Linked DNA regions of Homo sapiens. The protein of the gene in region 1 purifies or fractionates together with the protein of each later gene. This does not show direct contact. Each region holds a gene or a part of one and is shown on either strand. Other genes may lie near its edges.

The links. The genes of interacting proteins can lie anywhere in the genome.
Region 2: the proteins of MKNK1 (region 1) and NUP210 purify together in Homo sapiens (affinity purification with mass spectrometry; one large-scale study listed by BioGRID and IntAct). This does not show direct contact.
Region 3: the proteins of MKNK1 (region 1) and CCDC149 purify together in Homo sapiens (affinity purification with mass spectrometry; one large-scale study listed by BioGRID and IntAct). This does not show direct contact.

What each region holds. Positions count from the first base shown.
Region 1 is NC_000001.11:46,583,769-46,587,268, forward strand, and holds part of MKNK1 (MAP kinase-interacting serine/threonine-protein kinase 1), read right to left. Parts: exon of another isoform or gene 2,466-3,500; intron 2,207-2,465; exon of another isoform or gene 2,122-2,206; coding exon of another isoform or gene 2,106-2,121; exon of another isoform or gene 1,728-2,105; intron 1,280-1,727; exon of another isoform or gene 891-1,279; intron 885-890; exon of another isoform or gene 831-884; coding exon of another isoform or gene 690-830; intron 1-689. UniProt on the Homo sapiens protein: May play a role in the response to environmental stress and cytokines. Appears to regulate translation by phosphorylating EIF4E, thus increasing the affinity of this protein for the 7-methylguanosine-containing mRNA cap.
Region 2 is NC_000003.12:13,322,823-13,326,322, reverse strand, and holds part of NUP210 (nuclear pore membrane glycoprotein 210 precursor), read left to right. Parts: intron 1-391; coding exon 392-528; intron 529-2,890; coding exon 2,891-3,014; intron 3,015-3,500. UniProt on the Homo sapiens protein: Nucleoporin essential for nuclear pore assembly and fusion, nuclear pore spacing, as well as structural integrity.
Region 3 is NC_000004.12:24,910,243-24,914,295, reverse strand, and holds the start of CCDC149 (coiled-coil domain-containing protein 149), read left to right. Parts: upstream 1-1,253; 5' UTR 1,254-1,431; coding exon 1,432-1,479; intron 1,480-3,469; exon of another isoform or gene 3,470-3,524; intron 3,525-4,053.

The DNA.
Region 1 (3,500 bases):
CATAGGCTCAGCAACATCGCTATGGATGCACACAGGGCACAAATGGCCTGGAGTGGAGACAGCCTCTGTGAAGGTAGCAATAGGGCTGGGGTTCAAAATAGCCCCAAATTACTTCATGTCCAAGAGCACGGACTTGAGTGCCTATGGAGCCTACGGCATCCTCTCCTCCCATAGCTCCTCCATCGGAAGGGCTGCAGGTAGTGCCCATTCAGAAGTCGGCAGTTGACAGGTCTGTGCCAGGCTGCTGGATGAGGTCACTTATTGCAAAAAACCTTATTATCTTTCATTGGCAAGCACCTGGCTCCCAATCTTAAAAGGAGGATTTGTGAGGCAGGCATTCAGACACTGCACAGATTGGGCAGAAAAAGTCCGGATGGAAAGAATAAGCAGGACACTGAGATAGGAAAGAGAAAAGGAGGAACAGTGAACCAGTGCCCAATCACAGTCCTGTTTCTAAGACACTCTAGTATGGGCCTTTCCCTGTTAAAGATAAATTACTTATAGAACATGTCATGCCCCTGATCCAGAGTGGAGCTTTAATACTCTTTGCCTGCAGTTAGAAATAATAAGATTTCTCCGAAGTCTCTGGGTCTAAATCCCCACCAGCGTGATTAAACCTTTACATCCTTCTAAAATAGAGGCACTCGAGTGCTGATGGGGCATACGATGTGAGAGACTTTTAGACCAACCTTCAATAAACACAGGCTCTTGGTTGTTGGTGTTTTTTTTTTTTTTTCTTTCTTTTTTTTCTGAGAGCTTTTAAAATGGAAGCTGGTTCTTTGCCCATTGAGGGGAAAGGCCCACTCTCTTCTCAGAGGATCTGGCGGCATACGACCAGAGAAAGAGCAAGTCTGCTAGGAAGACTGATTAGTGCTCATGCAGGTCCATACACTGTTCTCAGACGCAAGTACGTGACAGCCATCCGGAGAGAGCACACAGGATGGCACTTTCAACACCACAATCCAGAAAGCATGGTTACGCAGCCAAGTGCCTGACAGCTCAATTTAGGCGCATTCTTCCATCCATTTTGGGGATCTGATGACAGCACATTTTAAATTATAGTTTAGAATGGGGAACAGATAAACACACAGATAAAAGAAATCCACAGAGCATCTCAAAATATAACTCTAGCCAAGAGCTTCAAACACAAGATATATCTGGGGACTGCAACACCCTATGAATTGAAAGAATTAAACATCTGGCTAGGCACCATGGCTCACGCCTGTAATCCCAGCGCTTTGGGATGCCGAGGTAGGCAGATCACTTGAGGTCAGAAGTTCGAGACCATCGTGGCCAACATGGTGAAACCTGTCTCTACTAAAAATACAAAAATTAGCTGGGTGTGGTGGCGGGTGCCTGTAGTGCCAGCTACTCGGGAGGCTGAGGCAGGAGAATCGCTTGAACCTGGGAGGCAGAGGTTGCAGTGAGCCGAGATCACGCCATTGCACTCCAGCCTGGGTGACAGAGCAAGATTCCGTCTCAAAAAAAAAAAAAAAAAAAAAAAAAAAAAAAAAAAAAAAAAAAAAAAAAAAAAATCAGCACCTCAACACCCACCCTCACCAAGGTAAATTAAAAGGAAAAAAGCTGCCCAAATGTATAACATGGTGAGAAATTCAGCAGAAATAAAACACAGGGTCACTCATCTTCAGGAGCTCAGGGAGGGGGTGCTGGCCATCGGGGCAGCAGGCTGAGAAGGAGGAACCATTGTCTCTCTCTCTTGCGCTGACCTTGAATGCAGTCCAGTGGCAACCCGTGTCTGCATCTATTTTCTCATCGGCACCGCAGGCCCAGTGCAGAGGAAACAGATTTGGGTTTCAGCTCTTTCTCCTTCCCCTGTCCACACTTTGATGGAGGGCCCCAGGACAAGCAAAACAGCCAAAAGACAGGCAGAGCAGAGGAGCAGCAAGAGGGCTGGAGGCATTATAATTCACAGGGGACACTCAGGCACACGACTCTAATGAGAAAACCCTGTTAGCGACAATTTATACTTGGTCTTTACCACAGCAGGGCTGAGGGAGCCGCTTGCACGAGAAGCATACCTCACAGCACCACCGCACACGTAACATTAGATTTTATGGCTTCACACACACACAAAGACAGAGTACCTGGTATATTCTGCATGGATTTCAATGAAAGAGGGTACGCCAGAAGGGACAAATGGTTAAGACTTTCCTTGGAAATGGAACTTGGAGAGTTGTTTCTGAAACTAGGAAGGAAAAAATGTAGGAAGATGGGTGAAGTGAAAGAAACATGCTTAGCTTCCCTGGTTACACAGGGGGAAGCGAGAGGTGTCATAATCTCACCAAGGGGTCGCTAGTTGCCCATGTGGAGCCTGGCCACACACTATTTTCATCACAGAGTCCACTAGCAGGTCTGTGGGGCCTTAATTCATCATGCAAACACTCATGGGATAAATGCTGCCTCAGGGAGTGGGACCCCCGCAGTAAAGCTGCACCTTGGCTCACCTGCTTCCCTTGGCCTAGGAATTCTTCTTGGTCATCAAAAGCCGGCTCGATAGTCCCAACCCTTTTGCAGCTCCCTGATAACTCCAGATGAGTTAAGGTTTCTACAGAGACTCTGGAAGTCAGTTAGGTGCTATGCAAATGGAGGGTGTTACTGAGCAGAACTAGTAGTTGGTGCTCCATCCTCTGCTCCCAAACACCCTGCGAGAAGCTCCACGAGGGCACTGATTTTATTTGGCCTTGAGTGCTCCCCTGTGTTCCTAAAGGCTGAGATTGTCCCCTGTTCACTTGTTTCTCCTACAGATCATGGCACAGTGTCAGACACATAGCAGCCATCAGAAATTGCACTGAAATAGAAATGATATGAAATGACATGCATACTGTTAGGTGTGGGGTATGTCACACTGGCCTTTTAGGTACCCAGTGCACATCCTGAAAGAAACATGGGTACAACTTTGCCCTGTAGACAATGCAGAGTAAGGCTACTTAGTTTTATGAATCCAGTTCAGGAATTCTACTAATTCCTGGATAAACTCCCTTTCGAAAAAGGGTCTAGGACACAAAACGTCCTTCACTTTCTTATCTTTTCTTTTCTTTTTGAGATGGAGTCTTGCTCTGTCACCCAAGCTGGAATGCAGTGGAGTGCAGCTCAGTACAACCTCTGCCTCCCGGGTTCAAGCGATTCTCCTGCCTCAGCCTCCAGAGTAGCTGGGACTACAGGCACATGCCACCATGTCCGGCTAATTTTTTGTACTTTTTAGTAGAGACGGGGTTTCGCCATGTTGGCCAGGCTGGTCTCAAACTCCTGACCTCAGGTGATCCGCCTGCCTTGGCCTCCCAAAGTGCTGGGATTACAGACGTGAACCACTGCGCCCAGCCAGGTCCTTCACTTTCTAAACAGAAGCCTGGTTCTTGCTATAGGATTGGGCAATGTGTCTGTTATTACAGAGGAAGAAGTGAGCACTTCTTTTCAGTTTCAGGCAGATCCCAGCTGGTCTGGAGGCTCCCAGCACTTCCGCTGCCTCCAGCCCTTGCCTT
Region 2 (3,500 bases), on another chromosome or scaffold:
GGGGCTGTGCTTTGGGGAAGGAGCTACAGAGGGCAGGGCCTGGCAGCAGCACCAGACCATTCCTGGGCAGGAGTCAGCTAAAGCTTCATGCCAGGATGGTCAGGAGATTCCAGGCAGGGAGTTGTGGGTCAGGGAGAGCAGGTGCTAGGGGCCACAGCCCTGTAGAGGGCGGGTGCAGCAGGGTAGGAGAGCTGATGGCTCCAGGTGGCTGGAGTCAGGAGCATGACCGGCACTGGGGCAGGCAGCGTGGCTGTCTCCTGAGGCTGCTGAGTGAGCCCCCATGGGGGTAGCGGCAGCCAGCGAGGAAGCTGGCCTGTCATCCAGGTGAGCTGGGCTTTGACTGGAGTGTCCAGCTATGGAAAGGGGGCTGACACCTGTGCTTCCTCTCCAGGCCTCTCAGGAACCTGGAGCTCCTCGGCCAACAGCATCCTCCACATCGACCCCAAGACGGGTGTGGCTGTGGCCCGGGCCGTGGGATCCGTGACGGTTTACTATGAGGTCGCTGGGCACCTGAGGACCTACAAGGAGGTGGGCTCTAAGCAGCCGGAGGCACATGTGGCTCAGTGGCCTGTGAGGCGGGCCTGACCTTCTGGGAGGATTATGAAGACTTTTCCTTTTAGGGAAAAGCCGTCTGAGGGGTTGGGTCTGGGAGTCATGAGTCTGGGACTGGCCACTTGCTGACTCTGACATGGGGACAAGCTCCCTTTTTTTTCCAGGCTTCAGTCTCCCCATGTTCAAGAGGGTGTGATGAGGACAGGCAGCCTTGTAGGGTGGATTCCAGCTCCCATGGGCTTGGGTCTGGCAACCCCGGAGTGGGCACTTCCTGGGAGCCGGTGCTTCCCTGTCACCTGCAAGGCTAAGACTCCCTGTGCAAGTCACCCTTTGAGTCTGGAGGCGACAAAACCTGCTGTCTCTTCCATTCATCTCCAGTTGAGAATGAATCAGTGGGGCAAGTCTGGCTGAGATCCAAATGCATCTCATTTTTAGAGGCAGCATGTGCTTTATGGAACCTAGCAGTTTAACCTAATTGTTTGCATATTTAGTGCTGCGGCTCTGCAGTTTGGGCGAGCCAGTTGCAGACAGAGGCATCCTGTGACAATACAGCTGTGCTCTCCTGGAAAGAGCCTCTGGTCAGGGGATGGGGTGGCATGGACAAAGGTGTGTAGGGTTCAAGGGCAGAGCCTCGGGGGCTGGAACAGAGGGTGTGGGAGAAGCATGGTCTGGCTTTGTGATCAGATCAGAAAATGCACCAGATTCCAGGCAGTTTGGTGCAGGTTGAGGGTGGGGCATCTACAGCTAGACGGTCTAGGTCAAATCCCAGCTTGGCCACTGCGAGGCTATGACTGAGCAATCATTGAGTCTCGCTATGTCCCGATTTTCTTGCCTGTATAATGGGGATGATAGCGTTGTGAGGATTTAGTGAGTTAGCACGTCAGAAGCCCCTAGGGTGGTGCTCAGCTCATAGCCAGTGCTCAGCAGAAATTAGCTGCTGCTGCTGCTGCTGTTCCAGGGTGAAGGGGTAGAAGCTTATGCCACACTCAGTGGAGTTTTTTAAACAGTGCTATAGACCAAGGCTGTGTTTGCAGAGGTTACCTGGCACCTGGAGGAGCTCGAGAGAGCAGTCGCTACAGGGTAACTGGCCAGAGACTGAGGCCAGGCCCTCAGCTGGGATCACTGGGTGTGGCAGAATCTAAAGGCAGGTTTGGGAGAGACGGGAGGGAGGGAGGCACATCAGAGCTCCATGAGCATCCAGAAGTGAGGCTGGAGGGGAGGAAGGGCTTGGGATGACCAGGCTGCTACTGGTCCTTTGCTGAGAGGGGCACACAGAGGTAGGTAGGCCTGCAGGGAGGTGAGGAGCCTGGGCCGGGGAGCTAGAGATGTCACAGCTCTCCCAGGTGAGGCAGGAGGCACACCTGGGTGGGTGCGGCAGGAGCACTGTGAGGAAGGCTGGACAGGGTGGGGGCCTCAGCCCAGAAGTGGCCTCTGAAGCCCTGGGAGTGGGTGGGAGTGCACGGGCACTCCAGGAGTGCAGGCAGGAGAGGGGCCAGGAAGCCTTGGGCACTCTCTGAGGGTGGACAGGGAGGAAGGGGAGAGGAGGGCCAGCGTTGGGGGGTCCCAGGCTAGAGAGTGGGACACAGCCTCTGTCAGTCCCTGGAGGTGGATGGTGGTAAGCCCTGAGCGGAGGCACCGTGAGTTTGACAGTGATGCCTGGTCACCTACAGCTCTGCATGGGCCACATCCCTGGGAGCTGCAGGGGCTTCAATCGCATCCCTGCTCTGAAGTTCACCTACTGGTAGAAATCAGATCTCCTGGAGGCAGGGAGCGCTGGTGCCTGCTGAGAGAGGGAGGGGGGCCTTCAGCTGCAGGAAGTGGCCTTGGGCCTGAAGGGTGGATGAGGCTGGGCTCTGCAGAGAAGATGGGAGGGTGTCCTAGCCAAGGGAGTGCAGGGAGGTCTCCAGCCTGGGGCTGTTTGGGTGTGGCCAGGTACAGGATGGGCACAGGGGGAACAGCTGGGAAAATCTGGGCAGACTGGATTCTGGGTGGGGTGTGGTGCTGTACTACAGAGAAGTGATCATGGCTGTCCGAACAGCCAAAATCCTCAGCCCACCCAGATCGATTAATGAATTCAGGCCCGCTGCTCAGCGTCCAGTCAGCTGCTGGGGGAAGCAGCTTGTTCAATGGGAGAACTGGGCTGTGAAGTCTGACCAGACTGGGCTCAAACCCCCTCTCTGCCACATTCTAGCAAGGCGTTTAGGCTTTGAGCCTCAGTGTTGCCACCTGTGAAACGGGTGACACTATGTCACAGACTGCAGGGTGAGGTTGTGGAAACGCCCAGCATGGACCGGGACACAGGCGGCGCTCCATGAAGCTTCCTTGGCTCCCTCTCTAGGTGGTGGTCAGCGTCCCTCAGAGGATCATGGCCCGTCACCTCCACCCCATCCAGACCAGCTTCCAGGAGGCTACAGCCTCCAAAGTGATTGTTGCCGTGGGAGACAGAAGCTCTAACCTGAGAGGTACTTAATGAGGGGCTTGGGCTGTCTTCAGAGTACCTGGGAGCGGGGAGGTGGCTTCCTGTGTCCTCTGGATGGAGTTTATCTGCTTCTCCTATTCACACTCACACCAACTCCAGAGAGGGCATTTAGCCCCCACTCATCCACTCCTTCCAGCGTTTCTGAAATTGGAGTCCTCCAAAAGCTGAGCCAGTGAAAGGAATCTTCATAATGGAGCCCAGCTCCCAGAAGGTGCCTGTTCTGCACTGGAAATGTGACTTCAGCCCGAGGGCACCCTAGCAAAGAAAGCCACAATTTCCCACCGTGAATCCCAGAAACTAATGAATTAGCAGGACTCGTCACTGGTTTTAATTTTTGTAATGACCTCTCCCAGGTCATGCATAGAATGTTGAACCCCATCCCCTGCCCATGACAGCCCTGAACAGCAGCTGCCAGAAATAAGTAAGTCAACAGGGCTGTTTTCTTAAACCACCTCACTGGCAGAGTGAA
Region 3 (4,053 bases), on another chromosome or scaffold:
AGAAGGGGAATGATTGCTGCCATTTTGCAAACAGTCTATCATGTGCAAAACAAGGCCAAGAACAAACTTTCAAGGTGATACTTCATTCTTAGATTTCCAAGATGCTAGAGCCAGAAGTCCTAGTTGAGTCCCTGTTTCTCCACGTTTCAGGCCTCAGTTTCCCCATCTAATAAATGAGGATAACATCCATTTCACAGGGTTGATCCAGGATCAACAGGGGCTAAAAATTATAAATAAATGTTGGTAATGATGCTTCCACAACTGTACAATGGGTTCACAACTTCTCAACCTACTTGCTCATCTCCACACACAGCGTTTCTGCGAGTACAGAGGGCTCACTATTGATAGTGGTCCAAGAGGGGATTTTAGGTGTCACAGGAACAGCACCTTGAATACGATTGACTTATGTGTGTGATTCACCTTCCCTCTGTCATTCTCTTTCAGTCTTTCCTCTTAGGAGAAGTCTCAGCTTAATGCCAATGCCTTCCCCTTTTGCTAATTATTTTATTTTTTGTAAAGAGGGGGTGTGTCACTTTGTGGCCGAGGCTGCTCTTGAACTCCTGTCCTCAAGGGATCCTCCTGCCTCAGCCTCCCAAGGTGCTGGGATTACAGGCATGAGCCATGGAATGCCACCAGTGCCAATTTGTCTTTGACACCTCTCTCAACCCATGCTAACCATCTCCCTCAGAGTTTTTGGCCCTATTTAGAATTGAATAATGCTTTATTTTCAATTTTTACATTTGCTTTCTATTAATGACAAATGATACGTTAAAAAATATATAAGCAAGCACTAATAGTTTAAAAAACAATGCTAAGTATATAATAAAACGTGGTTCATTCATTCTTGCGTTCAACAAATATTCGTCCAATAAATATATGTAGAGCATCTCCTATGGGCCAGGATCTTGCCAAAGGCACATCTGCGAACCAAGGAAACCCCTGCCCTCGGGGAGCTTGCATTCTAGGCGTGGGAGTCGTGATGGTGGTCGGAGAAGGACTGGATTTGGGGATTTGCTTCTTGCGGGGGACACAGGCCTGCCCGTGGGGCCCGCCTCCCGCGCGGAGAGCGCTGAGGGGTCCGGAGTGACCTGTAGGCTGAGACCCTGGCTTCCCCTTGCCTAGAGGCCGGGCAGGAGGCGCGGAGCCCGAGGTCGCGGGGCTGAGGGCGCGGGGCGGGCCCGGCGGGGCTCGGCTGCGGCCCGGGCTGTGTCTGCGGCCCCGGCGGCCGCGCCCCTCCTCCCTTTCCCTCCGGCGGAGGCTGACGTGGAGTCAACAGCGCTGGCGGCCGCGAGAGGCGGCGGCGCAGCGGCTCGGAGGCGCCGGGCCCTCTCGGGGCCGCGCGGGGCCCGGGCGGCGGCGGCGACGCGACGTCGCGAGGAGGAGGAGGCGGCGGGGGTCCAGGAGGCCGGCCAGCGCATGGAGGAGGAGGCCATGAACGGCGACCGGACTGAGAGCGACTGGCAGGGGCTGGTGAGCGAGGTGAGGCCGCGGCGCCGGCCAGGCGGGATGGGCCGGGCCGAGCGGCCGCCAGCCCCGGGCCCGCGCCCCCAGAGAGGCCGAGCTGGGAGGGACGAGAGGGGGGCGCGCACTCCAAGTGGCCGCGGCTGCCGCACCCGCGCGACCCCGCCAGGTGCGCCGCTCCTCCTGCACTTTCGGGTCTGCGCGGGCGCCACTTTCTTCCGCGCCATCTGGTGTCAGCCTTTGGGGAGGGGCCTTCCCCCCAAGGCAGGGGTTGGCCCTGGATTGGAGGCTGAAGCCCTGGGATCCGGGAGCAGAAGGTGCCAAGCCCCACCTGCCTGCCCGCTCGCCACTGTTGTGGAGCCAAACAATTGGACGCCTGGGACTGAAACGGGAAGGTGGTGCCATGGGGGAGAATCCGAGCCCTGGGGTGGAACCTGGGCCAGGTGGAATTACCTGCGGCGGTGGTTCGAGTTGGGGGAGTTCGGGGGTCCGCTGCAGCCGTTCACTCATTCACTTGCTCAATTCAATCAACACGTGTTTACTGCAGGCCTACCATGTGTAAGGTGGGGAGGGGCATTTATCGAAAAAGTGAAACACAGGTGCAGAAGTGATTCGATTTGTGGAAGCACAGAACACCGTGTCCCCCTGCCCTGCGACTCTTTTGTCATAAACATACCCTGGGGGTCCACTTTCAGGATCCTATGCTGTTTGCTCTTCAGTTCCCCCTAAGAGTTTGCCGGCCTGCCGGGAGAAGCTGCCGGCCTCTCCAGGTGAGAGGGAATGCGGATTTCTCCCTCTCACCTGGAGGCAACCAGGTAAGTTGCCCTGGTTTGCCACCATTTGTGGGGGCAATTCCTGGTGTTACTTACCCATGCCGGGGAATTTCTCCCTTCTGAGAACCAAGCTCCAGCCAAGGCCAACTTGGGGCTTCCTTTTCTTTAATCCTGTGCACACAATGCAGAGTGTATCGGTTTGCTCTTTTCCTTTCCTTGTGGGTTATGGGAAGGGAAACCCTCTACTCCCTCACTCCTTTCATCGTTTTCTGGGTCTCCAGGTCAGTCTGATAATAGTGCTTCATGCCCAGTGTGTGCAGAGCGTTGTGTTTCTGAAGAGGAATGACATGCGGTAGCTCCTGCCCTAGTTTAGTTTGCTCAGCATTGGTCTAGTAGTTGAAAGCTCTCCTAACTGTCTGGTGTTATGATCCATTGTATTGCAGCCTGGCTCCATCTTCTCAAACTGTCAGGCTTTATGTTAAGGGGCAGATCCTCTGGGGACCTTGTTTCTGGTCCCATCAAGAATCATACTTAGTAGTCAAGGAGGCTGGAGGTAGTTCTCCTTAGAAGTCCAGTGTTAGGCCCTTAAATAGCAGCAGAATCTTCACTACTCCAACAATTGCATATCAGGTGCCTGTTAGGAGTCAGTACATTGTGAGGTGCTTGGGATTCAGTGGTGAATAAGACAAAGAACTCCCCTACCCTCAAAGAACTCCTGGGGGTTTCATGATATAGTCTGGGAGGAAGGTCATACCGTAGACAGTGAGAGTGAACTAAAGGATGGAAAGGCTTCAAGTGCTAAATGGCATGGGGTGCCCCTCAGTTGGCTGGGCTTAACCTTCACCTTGCCCTGACCACATTATTGTAACAATAGGCTTCCTCACTAGGCCGTGTGCTTTGTTTGGTTCTTTATTCCAGGGCCTATACACAGAGCTCTGTATGCAGCAGGTGCTCGAAAAATGCTTGTTGAATAAGTCAGTGAATCCTGAAGTAGGTCCTTCAGGAGTTTTCCTGCCCATCCCAGCAGAGTTTCTCCAGAGTAATACCTCCTTAACTTCACAAACATGAGGTGGGCACGTAGCCAGGGGCCATGGGGGAGGTGAAAATGGGTCTAACTTACTTCCCACCTTAATAATAACTAATGACTATTTTTTGAGTGCATCCTTCATATTAAGCATTTTACATGGCCTCATATTCACAATGACATAAGGTAGGAATTCTTTCTTATTTTACAGATAAGGAAACAGTGGCTCAGACAGGCTAAGGAACTTGCACAGAGCCTCACATCTGGTAAGTGGAAGAGGCAGGATTTGAATCCTGGTCTGTCTGACTCATTGCTTGAGCCTTGCTTGTCTGAGCCTTGCTAGGCCACACTTGCTATTTTAATCATTGCTCATCTGTCTGTATCTTCTGCTAGATGGCAGGCTTCCCAAGGAAGGAGACCATGTCTGATTCAACTTTGAGTCCGCAGCAAATGGCTTGGTGTTTCTTAGAGTATGGCCTACAGATCACCTGCATCAGAGTCATTTTGGGTGCCTGTGAAAAATTCAAGTTTATGGGTCTCTCCCAAATTTACTGTAGTGAGTTGAATTATGTATCCTGCTCCCCCCACCTCCCCACCATAGCTGCATCCGAGACCTAACCCCAGTAGCTGCAAATGTGACTTTATTTGGAAATAGGGCCTTTGCAGATATGATCAAGTTAAGGATCTTTAGATGAGATCACCCTGGATTTAGGGTAGGTCCTAAATCTAATGACTGATACCTTAGAAGAGAAAGGACAGAGATTTAAGCCACAGACACACAAGGGAGCAGGCTAT